Linked DNA regions of Homo sapiens: region 2 is linked to region 1. Evidence: fine-mapped expression QTL. Tissue or cell type: whole blood. Region 1 holds a variant in brackets; the other region holds the start of a gene. All regions are shown on one strand. Distances are from middle to middle. Region 1 has its middle 37 kb from the start of CHST2. Region 2 holds the start of CHST2 (carbohydrate sulfotransferase 2).

What was found.
Region 2: CHST2 starts here. The variant in region 1 is fine-mapped to the expression of CHST2 in whole blood (INTERVAL, PIP above 0.99).

Annotation. Positions count from the first base shown.
Region 1 is chr3:143,152,641-143,160,974 of GRCh38, forward strand. No RefSeq gene overlaps it. Among named protein-coding and RNA genes, the nearest start is that of CHST2, 37 kb to the left of the region's middle. The variant T/A (reference allele first, on the strand shown) is at 3,341.
Region 2 is chr3:143,115,502-143,123,835 of GRCh38, forward strand. It overlaps CHST2 (carbohydrate sulfotransferase 2), which reads left to right and starts at 4,270. Exons shown (of 2, transcript NM_004267.5): 1 at 4,270-5,040; 2 at 5,143-8,334. The coding sequence starts at 5,316. The coding sequence ends at 6,908. RefSeq lists enhancers at 3,326-3,827, 3,503-3,632, 3,828-4,327, 4,613-4,662, 4,986-5,627 and 2 more and silencers at 4,093-4,382, 4,873-4,922, 4,953-5,002, 5,053-5,132, 5,193-5,392 and 1 more.

The DNA.
Region 1 (8,334 bases):
ATAAAACCAAAGAGAGGGGCAGATACATCTTATTCTTTACTCTTTATTTGCTTGGAAAATAAGATGCTTGCATTAAGATTTGGCATTTTCAGGGAGTCATGCAAGGATGCAGGGTCTGCTGGAGGTTAGTTGCAGAAGGCAGAGCCGTGTGGCATTGGCTCTGCTGGTGATGACCTCATAACACCCTGCGTGGGAACTTGGCTGTGCTCATGGCAGCCCAGCTTCCCATTCTCTGCCTGTTTTCAAAGCCTAGATCTTTAGTCTTGCAAACAATTCCAAAAGTGTGCATATCCTTTCAATATACCCCCTTTGGTACAGACTACTACCTTTTCTGGCACACCAAAGAAAAATTAAATTCCCTCCTCCCTCCTGCCCCAGTCCTCTAGAGCAAAATCATGAGAAACTGGCCTGCTGTTCCATTTCAGCCATCATCTTACCTGAGATGGACACTGGTTCATTTCTCATGTGATAGGAATGTCAGTACTCCTTCAGCCCCATCATGATCTGAATTAAGTGCAGGTTTGTTTTCTTTAATGCGTTTGAGGGAGGAGTTTGAAGGAGGTGACCAGTTACTGATGTTTTTACCACACAAGTAATACATGAATGCATGCTTCTCATGAAAGACTCCAACAAGGCAGGAATATTCAGGGGAAAACATGATAGACTCGTCCACTGCAGGCCCCCATCACTCTTGCTTTACTCCAAGGGGCAAGCACTATGAACACTGCTTTGCATTTGTATAGTCTGTACACATTTAAAACACATAAATGGGAATACTATGAATTTTGCTTTGTGACTTGTTTTTTCAATGAACAATTTGGGATAACTTTCCATAAAGGTTCAATATATTCTTCTAATGACTGCATAATATTTTTATACTATATTTTATTTAATCTCTTCCATTTGAGAGTTCCTAATTTTTCATTAGTAGAAAAAATATTCCCATGAACACCTTGTATATTTATGTTCATATGTCAATTTTTTTCTAGAATACATTTTTCTAAAAATTGAGTTTTTTCTAGAATGCGATTACTGAATCAAATATAATACATGTTTATAGTTTTGATAGATGTCATCCAACAGCTTTCCAAAAAGTCTTCACCAATTTACAATCCCTCTAACAGAATGGCCTAGAGTTCAGTCCTGCAGCCCTTTCAATGACTTTATAGGCATTTAACATTTCTGCTTAAAATTGGCAAAGTGGTTTTGATTTCCTGCAACAGAACTCTGCTCAAGATACCGTGCTATGATCTTATGATTCCTTTGCTTAAAACACTTCTGTGACTACCAAACACAGATCAAACTAAAGCATTATATGCTTACCTTGAGCTCCATCTTTACTTAAGGATCCACCACAGCTGCTCTTGCCTCTGCCATCAAGAATGACTCAGCCGCCTGCTGGGTATGAGGGCTCACGCCTGTAATCCCAGCACTTTGGGAGGTTGAGGCAGGCGAATCACTTGAGCCCAGGAGTTCAAGACCAGCCTGGGCAACATGGTGAAACCCTGTCTCTACAAAAATACAAAAATTAGCCAGGCATGGTGGCACATGCTTATAGTCCCAGCTAGTTAGGAGGCCGAGGTAGGAGGATTGCTTGAGCCTGGGAGGTCGAGGTTGCAGTGAGCTATGACGGTGCTGCAGCTCTCCAGCCTGGGTGATGGAGTGAGACCCGGTTTAAAAAAAAAGAGAAAAGAATCCCTCAGCCTGCCTTTCAGGTTTTCCAGAATTTGGCTCCATTCCCCGTTAGTCAGTATGGTTCCCCTGGTTCCTCACATCTATTCCATGCTCCAAATGAATGTGTCTCCCACTGATCTGCTGTATCTGCAATGTGGAACTATCTGGTACCCACCCAGATATACTTGTATCTTCAGGTCTCTGCCTCTTCCTGTCCTAGGCTCAATTGCCTCTCTCAGCCCCAAACTTTTCCTTTTTTTCTTTTTTCCTCTTTTTTTTTTTTTTTTTTGAGATGGGGTCTCGCTCTGTTGCCCAGGCTGGAGTACAGTGGATCACTGTAGCCTCTGCCTTCTGGGTTCAAGTGATTCTCCTGCCTCAGCCTCCTGAGTAGCTGGGATTACAGGTGTCCACCACCAGGCCTGGCTAATTTTTTGTATTTTTTAGTAGAGACGGGGTTTCACCATGTTGGCTAGGCTGGTCTCGAATGCCTGACCTCAGGTGATCCACTCACCTTGGCCTCCCAAAGTGTTGGGATTACAGGTGTGAGCCACCGCACCCGACCACCCCCAACATTTTCTTATCTGTGCACACCAAGCTCAGTACAGCCCCACTCCTTTGAAGGCTGCCCCGGGGATGCCAGCTCACATTTCTCTACTTTTGTGTGTGCTGTGCTCTGCTGCACACTGTCCCACTCGCTACTGGATCTTAGCACTTGCTTGTAATAGAATGTAAAGCTATTATTTGATAATTATTTAACATATGTGTACATTTTGTCCCAATTTAGAATGTAAGGCCCTTATGTGAAAGGTACCATATCTCGTTTTCCCTTTGTAGTCTTAAATGTTTAAAACAAGAGAAAAGAAAGGATATTTATTAAATACCTGCCATGGATTAAGTGCTTTTTTAACCATGACCTTATTTAATATTCACAACAATCCTGGAAAGATATTTTCATATTTCAGAGATATTAAACAACTTTGCCCTGAGAAATCCCCAAAGCTGAAATTCAGAATTGACTCAGTCCAGTGCCATAGTGCTTCTTTAATGTGATGTCTGGCCAGTTGCCCTCTAGGACTTTATATACCAGAGTGGCAGAGGTGGTGGACACTTACTATGGGTAATTAACTAATGAAAAGTGAAAGTATGCCTTATTTGCCTAGAAAGATATTTCAGGACTCCCAATGTATTTACTCTGTATGCTTTTATTTTCCTTCAGATATTAAAAAACTTATTTTGAGATCATTTATGATTTACAGAGGAGTTACAAAAATAGTGCGGGGTTCCCATATACTCTTTACCAAGCTTCCTCTAGCATTAAAATCTTAAATAACTACAGTATAATTATGAAAACTAAGAGATGAACACTGGTATAATACTATTAACTAAACTATAGGCTTTATTAGAATTTTCCCAGTTTTTGTTTTTTTTACTAAGTGTCTATTTCTATTTCAAAATCCAATGCATCATACTCAGTCACTCTCACCACTTCTATTTAACACAGGACTGGAAGTCCTACAGCAATTAGGCAAGCTAGAACAACTAGGCAAGAAAAAGAAATGAAAGGCATTCAAATTGGAAAGGAAGAAGTAAAATTATCTCTGTTCACAGATGACGTAAACTTACAGGTAGAAAATTCTAAAGATTGCACAAGTAAACTGTTAAGTAA[T/A]AAATGAATCGTGCAAACTTGCAGGTTACAAAATCACCACACCAAGAAAACAGCTGCATTTTTATAGACTAGCAATGAACGATCTGAAAGGACCGTTTACATTAACATCAAAGAGAATAAAATAGTAGGAATACACTTAACCAAGAGGGTAAAAGATTTGAACACTAAAAACTACAAAACATTGCTGAAAGAAATCAAAGAAGATGTAAATAAATGGAAAGATATCCCATGTTAATTAATTGGAAGACTTAATATTGTTAAGATGCCCATACTACCCAAAGTGATCTATGCATTCAAAACAATCCCTATCAAAATCTCAATGGCACTTTCTTTACAGAAATAAAAAAAATTCCAAAATTTATATAGAACCACAAAAGACCATGAGTAGCGAAGTCAATCTTGAAAAAGAACAATAAAGCTGGAGGTATCAGCTTTTGGAAATATTTCCTGATACTTTAAAATCAGGAAATACTCCTTATGCCACGCACAAAATTTTGAAATCATGAAATACTTCTTACACCCTGCACAAAAGTTAACTCAAAATGGATTGAAGACTTAAACATAAGAGCTAAAACTATAAAACTCTTAGAAGAAAACACACGAGAAAAGCTTAGTGACTGGATTTAGCAATGATTTCTTGGATATTATGCCAAAAAATAGATAAATTGGATTTCATCAAAATTAATTTTTTGTGCATCAAAGGATACTATCTAGAAGATAAAGGCAACCTACAAAATGGGAGAAAACTTTTGTAAATCATATACTGGTAAGAGATTAATATCCAGGATATTTAAAGAACTCCAAAAACTTAGTAAAAACCACCACAACAAAGCAGTTCAATTAAACATGAGCAAATGACTTGATACTGATATTTCTTCAAGGGAGATATACAAATGGCCAAGAAGTACATGAAAAAACACTCAACATCAGAAATCATTAGGGAAATGCAAATTGAAACCTCAATGAGGTACCACATCACGCCTCTTAGGATGGCTATTATCCTCAAAACAGAAAACAAGTGTTGGTGAGAATATGGAGAAATTAGAACCCTTGCGTATTGCCTTAGGGAGTATAAAATGGTGCAGTCACTGTGGAAGACAATATGGCAGTCCCTAAAAAAAGTGAAATGTAAAACTACCAGATGATCCAGCAATTCCACTTTTATGTATATACCCCAAAGAATCAAAAGCAGAGACTTGGTCAGACATTTGTACTGTAAAGTCCATAGCAACATTATTCACAATAGCCAAAAGGTGGTGGAAGAAGCTCAAATGCCTATTAATGGATGAATGGATAAACAAAATGTGGCATATGCATACAATGGAATATTATACAACCTTAAGGAATGAAGTTTTTATGCATGCTGCAACATGGATGAACCTTGAAAACATTATGCAAAGTGAAATAAGCCAGACACAAAAGGATAAATGTTACGTGATCCCACTTATATGAAGTATCTAGAATAGTCAAGTTCATAGAGGAATGAAAGTAGACTGGTGGTTACTAGGAGCTGGATGGAGGGGACAATGGGGAGTTATTGTTCAAAGGGCATGAACATTTCAGTTCAGAAGGATAGAAAAATTCTGGAGGTAGATGGTGATGGTTGCATAACGATGTGAATGTACTTAATATCATTGCATTGTACACCTAAAAAGGATTAAGATGGTAAGTTTTATGTTATGTATATTTTGCCAGAATAAAATAAAATAGCCATAAGTTCACACTGCTATCTCTGGCTCCAATCCAGCCCCACAGGGTTTATTCTAGCCATCTCCCTTTCTTTATTGATAACTTCTTTCTCTAACAGAAAGAAACTTGGTTTTCATTATCTATAATATGTTTACTTATAATGTTCAACACTAGCACACAAAGTAGTTTCAGAATTGCTAACTTAGCACGCTTGTGAGAAACAAATTTACCAACTAGAGTACAGTATTTATGTACATTCTTTTTGTCTTTAGCCTTATAGTGTCCAGTCAAGATACTGTTTTCCAAAGTGACTTAGTTCAGATCCTTTCTTCCTCACCTTCTTCAATGTAGTTATGTCATTCATTTGTAATTCAGTTAAGTTCATTTGTCACAGTGCTTACTGGACAGCCAATGAGGTCATGCATTTGGAGTGCCTAATGCACTACCTGGCATGGAGAAGGGCCTTAAGAAATATGAGCTGAACCTGAATTTGTGGCACTGATTAGTGCTGTCCATCAACCTCATTACTTTGGCTCCATGAAATGTCAAAAGAGCTTTGACCAGGTTTCAAGTGTCTGTGACTCAGAACTAAGGTAACTGGCCCACAAGAATCAAGTCAGAAGTGCTGCCCTCATTAGCATCATGTTCTAGACAGCTGAGCCACTTATCATAGGACAACAAATCTGGGGGTTTAAATGGTGAATAACAGTGAAAGATGTGAATCATGCAAGGGACAGAAGATTTCAGGGGTGTAGAACTGTGCAGAAACCCAATGCAATCAGAGCTGATTCCCTCATGTCCTTGTCTCCTGAAATAGCCCACAGTTCTCCACACATTAGCTCTTCCACATTAGTCACCTCTTGATTTCTGTAGTGGATTCTGATGCAGTTCACCAGTGCCAAATGATGCATCTCCCTGGTCACTTGAAATTCAGTTAGGATTTTTTTTGGTTGCAGGCAACAGGAACCAATCCTAGCTAACGTAAGAGAAAAAGAAATGTGCTGGAGGCTATGAGGCAGCTCACAGAATTAAAGGAGCAGCTGTTGGATCTTGTTTCGGGACAACAGTGACTGGGGAAACCCCAGGAAGCACAGTAACAGGAACCAGCCATCACTGTGTCCAGGGCATGGCTGCTAGGATGAGTCAAGTCCAGAAACTTCTTTATGTGTCTCTCCCCTCAAGATTCAATTCTTGAGGGTTTCCCTTGGCCATAGCCTGGGTCACATGCTCATCTTTGGTGGGAAGGCAGAACACCTTGAATAGAGAGTCCCCAGTGGGAGCAGGTGGTAAACCCCAAACAGCAGATGTTCACTACATTCTATGAGGTACTCATCTTCCTCCCATTTAATGTGAGAAATAAGTTAATTTATCAATAAAACAACAAAACAATAGACTCCCCTTTTCCATGTTTCCTACAAGTATTCCAATCCTCACTGCCAGGGCTGTTATGAGCAGGTGGGGTTGGCTTTGCTGTTGTCTGAGTGGTGTTCTGGGCCATCCTTCAGGGCAGTACAAAACCTATGGTCAGGACAGGTCCCTCAGACATTTATCCCAGCTCTTTTCAACCAGCCCTCTGCTATAGGGCTTGGGTGTTGGTTTGAAGCACTAGGATTTTCCCAATTTCACATTTTATGAAAACCTCAAATAACATCCAACTAGAAATTAGGTTGGGTATGAGAGTCAGTTTAATCTAATACCAAGCTTAAGAGCATAAGCTTTGTAAGTAGAATGACTGGAGTTCAAATCCTGATGTGACCACACACTGGCTATATATTCTTTGATGTTATTTAACTTCTTTAAGGCTCAGTTGCCTAATCTGTAAAATATGGAGAGGGTCTAGCAGAGTCAGAGGTAGGAGCAATGGGTTTAGATACTTGGGTTGATTCTCTGGTGCACACTCATTAGCTATATGATCGTGGGCAAGTTACTTAGTGTCTTTTCATCTTTTCCTTATCAGTAAAATGGGATAATGGTAGTACCTTCTTCCAAGATTTGATCTGAGAACTAAATGAAATAATGTGCATAAGTTGCCAGTGTTGTTATTAACACTGAGTTTTCTGGAGGATTACATGAGCTCCTGTATGTGAGGTGCTTGTCGTAAGTCCTTCCTTGCTAGGGCAAGACCTTAGTAAATGGTGGCCACTGATATTGTGTGGCTTCATAGCTGTTTGTGAATTTCCTGTTTTTCCTTACATTGGTAAGGAAAAACAAAATTACATTGGTGTGGGTAATTGAGTTGCTGTGCATGTACATATATATTTTAAGCAAATTTCTTCATATCTGGTAGGAGATTCCCCATTGCTGTTGTTTTCTTCAGATAATTCTAAAAGATTGCAAAGACCTGAGGAGACTTTTAGAAAAATGTTTATAGACTGATTTGATTTGACAATCAAACTGCTTCTTGAGTTTCTGAAATGGTGAGACTTGTCCTTCCCTGCAAGACTCTTTTCATTTTTACAAGGTAGAGCTGAGAATGTATTCTCATAATTTAGCTGAAGGAAACAACAGACAGCCCTTTTTTGAAAAAGTCCGAGTTCTTTGTCCCTGGTTTCCCAACAGATTTGCTGAATTCTCCACTTAACTTTGCTTGTGGAAACAGAAATTCTTGACTGTGTCCTGGTACTAGGGGTCACCCACGGATCCCACGAACAGGATTTGGAAGCTCACCTTCTCATTGGCTGTGGAATCAGGAGGGTTTCTCTTCATAGAACCTGGATTTCATATCTATGTCACACACTCTGCCATTTGGCTTTTTAATTCCTTCTGAGTCGCCGGATGCTGCTGTCCGTCCTCACCCCTGTGTTTCTCTATAGGATACCTAACCTCTCCCCGGGGGACTTCGGTCTCTCACGACCGCCCCATGATTTCCTGCTGATGGTGTCCTTGGGAGGGAAACTGCTCTAAGGGACAAGCTGTTTTGCAGAATTACTTTAACCTCTCAGTCACTGTGTTACCCTCTCGGTGGGCCCCAGGCCTGTGGCTTTCCGGGCTCCCAGACATTCCTGTCCTCCAAGGGCTCTGCTTCTCAGCTGCATTTCCTGGGGTTCTTTGAGCTTCCAGTGTGGACCTCCCCGCCCACAGCTCAGCTCTATAACCTTACATCTTCTGGGAAGATTTGCTTTTTAATTATTCAGAACGACATCTTCAGGACTCCTTAGAAGCTGCCTTGTCTGACAGTGCTTCATGATTCACTCCTCAGTTTCTTTTGTAATTCCTGTGTGTCCAGTAGTTCATACACATTTCATATTTATGACAAAGCTATGGTTTTCTGGCAAATTTAGTTTACAAAGCAGCTCACACACACT
Region 2 (8,334 bases), 37 kb before region 1:
GGTCTAGGCCTGTCTGCTTCACTTTTGCATCTCACATAGCTAGACCAGCACCTGGTACATTATAGGTGCTTACTAAATATTTATTGTCATCCTTATATTTCTGGGATAAACCCAAATTGGTTCTAGTTTATTGTCCTTTTTTCCCCACTTGAGTGGATTTGTTTTGCTTATATTTTATTTAAGAGTTTTATGTATAAATTAATCAGAGACAGTACCAAATTTCTTCTCTGAAATCCCTCTGTAGTTATTATCCCCTTTGAATGAGTTGGGGGAAATATTCCCTCTTGTTCTCTTCTCTGATAGAGATAAGACTGAAACAATCTAGTTCTTGAAAGTTTGGTGGAACCCTCCTTTAAATCCCTCTGGTAATAGTGTTGTTTCAATTTGTAAGTACTGTTTTTCTTCTTTTTCTTTCTTTTCCTTCCTTTTCTTTTTTTTTGAGACAGAGTCTCATTCTGTTGCCCAGGCTGGAGTGCAGTGGCGCGATCTTGGCTCACTGCAACCTCTGCCTCCCGGGTTCAAGCAATTCTCCTGCCTCAGCCTCCCGAGTAGCTGGGACTACAGGTGCGCACCACCAAACCAGGCTAATTTTTGTATTTTTAGCAGAGACGGGGTTTCAGCCTGGTCTCAAACTCCTGACCTCGGGTGATCTGCCCAACTCGGCCTCCCAAAGTGCTGGGATTACAGGTGTGAGCCACCGTGCCCAACCTCTTTTTCTTTTTTTTTTTTTTGAGACTGGGTCTCACTCTGTTGCCCAGGTTGGAGTGCAGTGGCACCATTATGGCTCACTGCAGCCTTGACCTCCTGGGGTCAGGTAATTCTCCCATCTCAGTCTCCCGAGTTGCTGGGACTACAGGCATGCACTGCCACACTTGGCTAATTTTTTTGTAGTTTTTGTAGAGATGGGGTTTTGCCATGTTGCCCAGGTTGGTCTCAAGCTCCTAGGCTCAAGTGATATGCCCACCTCAGCCTCCCAAAGTGTTGGGATTACAGGCATGAGCCACCGTGCCCGGCCATAAGTAGTCTTGTATCTTTTTGAGATTGTTAAAGCAAGTTGTTTTTCCTTCCTGTTAGAACTTTATCATTTCATCTCAGTTTCTAAACTAAGTAGAGCGGTTACTCTTGGAGGTTTTTGGGCTGTGTAATGGGTTCATGCATATTCATTATATTAAAACATAGGACATTTAAAAGGGCCACTTGGACTAACAATGGCAGCATATCTTAAATCAAGGATTATGAGTAACCTGAATCTATAATCTCAAGTTCTATTGAAAATGCATATTTGTTCAAAATATGAGGGAGTGAATCTATCTTGGTGCCCAGGGGCAAACATTTTCCAAAGGTGAATCTTCTAGGATTCACACAGATAGGCCCAAATGGGAACTGTTCAGGTAACCCAGCCTTGCATCTTTCCCCAGTTCAGACTCTGGAAGAAAGTCCTTGAAGATCTCTGGACATTTGTCCAGGATTAAGCAAAAGCCACAGCAAGTTTCTTTCACTCGCATCAGTGTGAAGAGACCACCAAACAGGCTTTGTGTGAGCAATAAAGCTTTTTAATCACCTGGGTGCAGGCGGGCTGAGTCCGAAAAGAGAGTCAGTGAAGGGAGATAGGCGTGGGGCCGTTTTATAGGATTTGGGCAGGTAAAGGAAAATTACAGTCAAAGGGGGTTGTTCTCTGGTGGGCAGGTGTGGAGGGGGGGATCACAAGGTGCTCAGTGGGGGAGCTTTTTGAGCCAGGATGAGCCAGGAGAAGGAATTTCACAAGGTAATGTCATCAGTTAAGGCAGGACCTGCCATTTTCACTTCTTTTGTAGTGGAATGTCATCAGTTAAGGCAAGGACCAGCCATCTGGATGTGTACATGCAGGTCACAGGGGATATGATGGCTTAGCTTTGGCTCAGAGGCCTGACAGTTTCCAATAGAACATAACAGGCAGCAGAGAAGACAGAGACTGAAAGAGCATCCTGGGGGAGATGGAATTGTGACAAACTAAACCAGTGAGCCGAAATTAAGGCTAGCCCTGTGGCATGACTGGCTCTTGTGCAAGTGACATTATTATGTGACATATTATATGTCTGGGTCATTACTATGCTAAAATAAGTAGATTAAAATGAAAGGAATTTCCAAACAAATGCGGGAAGGAAGGCATTATGAAGTTTTCAGATGTCATTAGCTATAACAAAGTTCAGAATTAATCATGACACCATGCAAAATGGGAAAAATTTGCAAGCAAGGAGAGGGTGGAGATGCCAGAACCCGTAAATTTATGCCAGCTGAGCACTGTGGGGGCACCTGGCAAATGGATTTACTATTTTGCCAACACCAGTAAAGTGTTACAAAATTGCAAACGGAATTATTTCTATGCAAACAATTGTTTTTAAAAAGGGTCCCTACATCGACTAATGCAATTCAGTTTTTTTCTGGGTAAGCACAAAGCCAGAAACTAAATGAAAAATATTAGAAATTATTTTTCTTGGAATCATGTTGAATATTAAAATTGAGATTTACTTTCCTCCCCAATTCCCTCTCTCTCCCATCAGTCTTTTCATGCACCAATGTCATTTTAGTTTTCGTGGTAAAAGAGGTGGTGAAAAAGGGGCAGGGGCATTTGAGAGAGTAGGCGAAGGGAGGCTGGGGATTCCAGAAAAGGAAAAGATGGGGAGTCGCTCAATTAAACTCTACCACCTTCATCTGTTAACAGGGATTCTTGCCTGTCTCGACCCACTTCCAGAGGCAATGCCATATTATTTGAGAAAGCTGGATATAAAATTTGAGCTCTGCTGTCCTTGTCCCAATCCCCCTCCCCAGGAGAAAAAATAAGCTGAACTGTACTCGTGACATTATGGGTTTTTCTGGAAAACAAGGATAAATAAGTTTTTTGAACATTTTTCTCCCCTGAAACTAAATCCGTAAGAGAGTTAAAAACCCGTGGAAAGCGAGTTAAGTCACTTTTCAAGTCTTTGTACTCAGGGGATTCTGTAAGACTCATGGAAGAATAATGGCGCAAACAGCAATATTTTAATGTTAGAACGGTCCTCTGAAAAGTCTGCCCGAAACGCTACAAAGATAATTGTGCAGTAACTTCTAAAAACTCTACTGGGACAGGAGGCAACAAAACTCCGGATCAGCGAGAGCTCTGTTTATCCGAGGGTGCTGAGCCTCAGGCCCCACGGAGATTCCCTTTTCGGCACTTGGAGGCCTGAACTCAGGTCTAACCTTTCGTGTGCGCGCTCTGATACTCAACCACCGTTCAGTCTCCGGAGGCTGTTACAACTGTCCCCATTCTACAGATGAAGTTGAGGCTACAGCTTAGTGTTCTTGGGGAGGGAGGGAGTTGGGGGGAGAGAGAGACGCTTTTCCTCATAACCTTAAACAAAAGTACTTAAACCTAAAGCAACTGAAAAATGATTTTCTTTCAACAACGGTGTTTCCTTTGGGGTCAAGTTCTTTGATCTCATCTACAAAACCAAGAAGCGGGACAAGTATTTTTCTGCAAATTAGAACGGGGCGTTCCCCTCCCCCATCACCCCAATTCCAGAGGACGTCAATCACAGTGGACGCAGCACCGCGAGCGGAAATGCGGAGAGCATCGGGGCTCCGCATGTGGGGCACAATGAAACAAGAGCAGCCCCGGCCAGAGGTCCAGTAAAGCGGAAAGACGGTCCCGCCCGCACACCCCTCCGGAAAACTGAAGCGTCTCCTCTGACCCCCAAGGTCAGAAAGATTTATTACTTCCTTCGAGAGGGCGCAGCCACAGACCCACTAGAGAGGGCGGGCAGGGTGTCGGAAGCCAGAGAACGGCGCTCCGCGTCCTCCCACCGCTCCAGGGCGCAGAGGTGTCCTCAGTGCCCGGAGAGGTTGGCAGTGTCGGCCCCGAGGGAAGCGTGGAGCGGACGGCCGACAGGGGATTTCTGCCCAAACTTCATCACCAACTCTTTCTGAGAGCAAAAACATGGGGCCGAGTCCGGCAGCTGCACGCAGAATCCAACTCTCTGGCAGCTCTCGGCACCGACGAGCTCCAGATCCCGCGTTCGCATCCCGGCGCTTTGCGCGCAGAGCTAAGCCTTCGGACCCGTGGACTGCAGCCCCCGCGCGTCGCGGTAAAGCGGGTCGCGTCTCCAGCCCCCGAGGCGCAGCGACGGTGGGAGCCGGCTCGGCGTTGGGGGCGGGGGCGGGGCCGGCGAAGGGGGAGGGCTGCGCGGCGGAGGGGAGGAGCCGCGGCGACAGACGGCGGCGCGCACCAACCGGGCGCCGGCTGGCAGGAGCCGCGCAGAGGCTGGTCCGAGCGCGTTGCGGGCGCCCGGCGTAAGGGGAGTCGGGTAGCAGCATCCTCCTGGGCGCCGCTTTCGCGCGGCGGCGGCGGCTGCGGCGGGGTCTTTCTTTGCTTAAATACCTCGTTGGCCAGAAGCGCTGGTACCGGGGGCGGGTTGGGTCGGGTCGGGCAGTGCTGCACACCTGGGTTTCCTTGCCTAGAGCTGTGTGTTCGGGGTCCTTTGGTCCAGTCGGAGGCTGCGGAGCGGCGGGGGTTGCCTGCGCTGTCCGCCCGGGCATCCTCCCGGTGATGGAAGCAGCCGCCGCCGCCGCTGCGGGGTCGCGCTGTGCCCCATCCACCGCTGCCAGAGAGGTGGGAAAATTCGCCGCACGGAGGCCGAAAGCGAGAGGGGCTGCGCCGCTATGCCGGGAGCTGAGTCCCATATAAGCCGCCCCCAGCCATCGCCCCCAGCCGGCTTCGTTCCCCTGAGCGAGACAGGAAGCTGCGGTCCCGAGAAAGCGGAGGAGACGTCGCTGGAGCCGGGAGGCGCCGGGTTCGGCGGAGCGCGGAGCGGGGCTCTGGGCCGCGTGAAAGTTTTTCTTCCCGAGCCGCAGGGCGCCCGCTGCCCGGAAACTGCCCAGGGATAAGTCGGCCGACTCCCCAGACCCCTCGAAGGTGCGGGGACCCCCAGCGGAAGCGAGAGGGAGCGAAATCGAGGAACGAGTGACAGCCGGACAGTCCGCCGGGCGGTGATCCGGGGCCGCTCCCGGGCGCGCCCTCGGCTCCAGGTGAGCGGAGGAACCGGGCAGAACCGAGGGTGGGCGTTACTTAGGAGGAGGAGGCTGGGAGGGAGATTGGGGCGCATCCGCTCACTCCGCTTCCCCTCGCAGGTCCTACCCGGAGCCGCTGCCATGGGAGAGCCAGCCTTGGGCGCTGGGGACCAGCCGCCGCGCCCGCCTCGGAGTCGCGGCCCGAGTCCCGGCGCCAGCAGCCAGCCCGCTGCGTCCCCTTCCCGGGCTGCAGGGCTGCCTCCGCCGCGCCGCCGGCCCGGATTGTGCCTGTGATGAGCCGCAGCCCGCAGCGAGCTCTGCCCCCGGGCGCGCTCCCTCGGCTGCTCCAGGCTGCGCCTGCAGCCGCGCCGCGTGCCCTGCTCCCGCAGTGGCCCCGGCGCCCAGGACGCCGCTGGCCCGCGTCCCCTCTCGGAATGAAGGTGTTCCGTAGGAAGGCGCTGGTGTTGTGCGCGGGCTATGCACTGCTGCTGGTGCTCACTATGCTCAACCTCCTGGACTACAAGTGGCACAAGGAGCCGCTGCAGCAGTGCAACCCCGATGGGCCGCTGGGTGCCGCAGCGGGGGCAGCCGGAGGCAGCTGGGGGCGCCCAGGGCCGCCTCCGGCCGGGCCGCCCCGTGCTCATGCCCGTTTGGACCTCCGCACTCCTTACCGCCCTCCCGCTGCCGCCGTCGGGGCGGCTCCTGCAGCCGCGGCAGGGATGGCGGGGGTTGCGGCCCCTCCAGGCAATGGCACTCGGGGCACCGGGGGCGTCGGGGACAAGCGGCAGCTGGTGTACGTGTTCACCACGTGGCGCTCTGGCTCGTCGTTCTTCGGCGAGCTATTCAACCAGAATCCCGAGGTGTTCTTTCTCTACGAGCCAGTGTGGCATGTATGGCAAAAACTGTATCCGGGGGACGCCGTTTCCCTGCAGGGGGCAGCGCGGGACATGCTGAGCGCTCTTTACCGCTGCGACCTCTCTGTCTTCCAGTTGTATAGCCCCGCGGGCAGCGGGGGGCGCAACCTCACCACGCTGGGCATCTTCGGCGCAGCCACCAACAAGGTGGTGTGCTCGTCACCACTCTGCCCCGCCTACCGCAAGGAGGTCGTGGGGTTGGTGGACGACCGCGTGTGCAAGAAGTGCCCGCCACAGCGCCTGGCGCGTTTCGAGGAGGAGTGCCGCAAGTACCGCACACTAGTCATAAAGGGTGTGCGCGTCTTCGACGTGGCGGTCTTGGCGCCACTGCTGCGAGACCCGGCCCTGGACCTCAAGGTCATCCACTTGGTGCGTGATCCCCGCGCGGTGGCGAGTTCACGGATCCGCTCGCGCCACGGCCTCATCCGTGAGAGCCTACAGGTGGTGCGCAGCCGAGACCCGCGAGCTCACCGCATGCCCTTCTTGGAGGCCGCGGGCCACAAGCTTGGCGCCAAGAAGGAGGGCGTGGGCGGCCCCGCAGACTACCACGCTCTGGGCGCTATGGAGGTCATCTGCAATAGTATGGCTAAGACGCTGCAGACAGCCCTGCAGCCCCCTGACTGGCTGCAGGGCCACTACCTGGTGGTGCGGTACGAGGACCTGGTGGGAGACCCCGTCAAGACACTACGGAGAGTGTACGATTTTGTGGGACTGTTGGTGAGCCCCGAAATGGAGCAGTTTGCCCTGAACATGACCAGTGGCTCGGGCTCCTCCTCCAAGCCTTTCGTGGTATCTGCACGCAATGCCACGCAGGCCGCCAATGCCTGGCGGACCGCCCTCACCTTCCAGCAGATCAAACAGGTGGAGGAGTTTTGCTACCAGCCCATGGCCGTCCTGGGCTATGAGCGGGTCAACAGCCCTGAGGAGGTCAAAGACCTCAGCAAGACCCTGCTTCGGAAGCCCCGTCTCTAAAAGGGGTTCCCAGGAGACCTGATTCCCTGTGGTGATACCTATAAAGAGGATCGTAGTGTGTTTAAATAAACACAGTCCAGACTCAAACGGAGGAAGCCCACATATTCTATTATAGATATATAAATAATCACACACACACTTGCTGTCAATGTTTTGAGTCAGTGCATTTCAAGGAACAGCCACAAAATACACACCCCTAAGAAAAGGCAAGACTTGAACGTTCTGACCAGGTGCCCCTCTTCTTCTTTGCCTTCTCTTGTCCTCTTTCTCCTATTTCTTACCCTGTCCTCCACCTGCCTTCCATTTTGAAGTGGGATGTTAATGAAATCAAGTTCCAGTAACCCAAATCTTGTTTACAAAATATTCGTGGTATCTGTGAACATGTTAAGAGTAATTTGGATGTGGGGGTGGGGGTGGAGAAAGGGGAAGTGGTCCAGAAACAAAAAGCCCCATTGGGCATGATAAGCCGAGGAGGCATTCTTCTAAAGCAGACTTTTGTGTAAAAAGCAAAGGTTACATGTGAGTATTAATAAAGAAGATAATAAATAATATTCTTTTTAATATTTGCCTCCATTACTTTGGATTCACCTGTGTTACTTGTCCTCAGCTTCAGATAGAATCTCCTTCCCCTCCCTCGTTTCCATTTTTCCAGTCTCTTTCCTGAAAGGCAGCTAAACTGGGTGGGAGCAATTTTTGCCTCCTTGGTAATAACCTGGGGGATGTTTTCTCACATGTAAATCTCAGCCTGTTAGGTGTCCAGGAGTGAAACACATCTTTGTATTCTAAAGGCAGAAACCAAACAGGGCAGTGGAAGAAAAAGCACACTACTCTCTTCAACTTTGAACACAGGAAGAAGCAACTCCTTCAGGACTTGAAGGCATTTGGTTTTTCATTCCTCTTCAGTTAAAATGGGGAACCTTGAAGCAGAGACCAATGTTTTGGTGCTGAGGCTGGTTCAGAAAAAGGATTTTTAAAAAAAGTATGTAATTTTTAAAAGTTCTGATGATTAGAACACAGACCTCAGGAAAGTAGCGTGAACATACTGCTGGCGATGGTAGCAGCTTCGTTGGTTTAGCAAAGTGACAGAAGTATCTATTTGGAGTGTTTTTCTGACCCTGACACGGTATGTGGAGGTGGATGAAAGCAGCGAAGTTTCATCTGAGAACCGTAAGGGTTTTCCCTTTTCTTACTTGCTTCCCATTTAAATCAGTGCAAGAGAGAATATGAATTTATAATGCTTTACTTGGGATGCCTGTGGAATATGTTGCTTTTCTTTATCATGTTTCCTAAAAGTAAATTTGCAAAGAAAGTAACATGCTGCAGACAGTATAAGGCTTCAGCCAAGAGCTTCTTTTAGATATGATAATGAATTGTGGTAAAGAGGAAATGAAAATGAACTAGTGTGTAGGATTTTGAAATTTGGTAT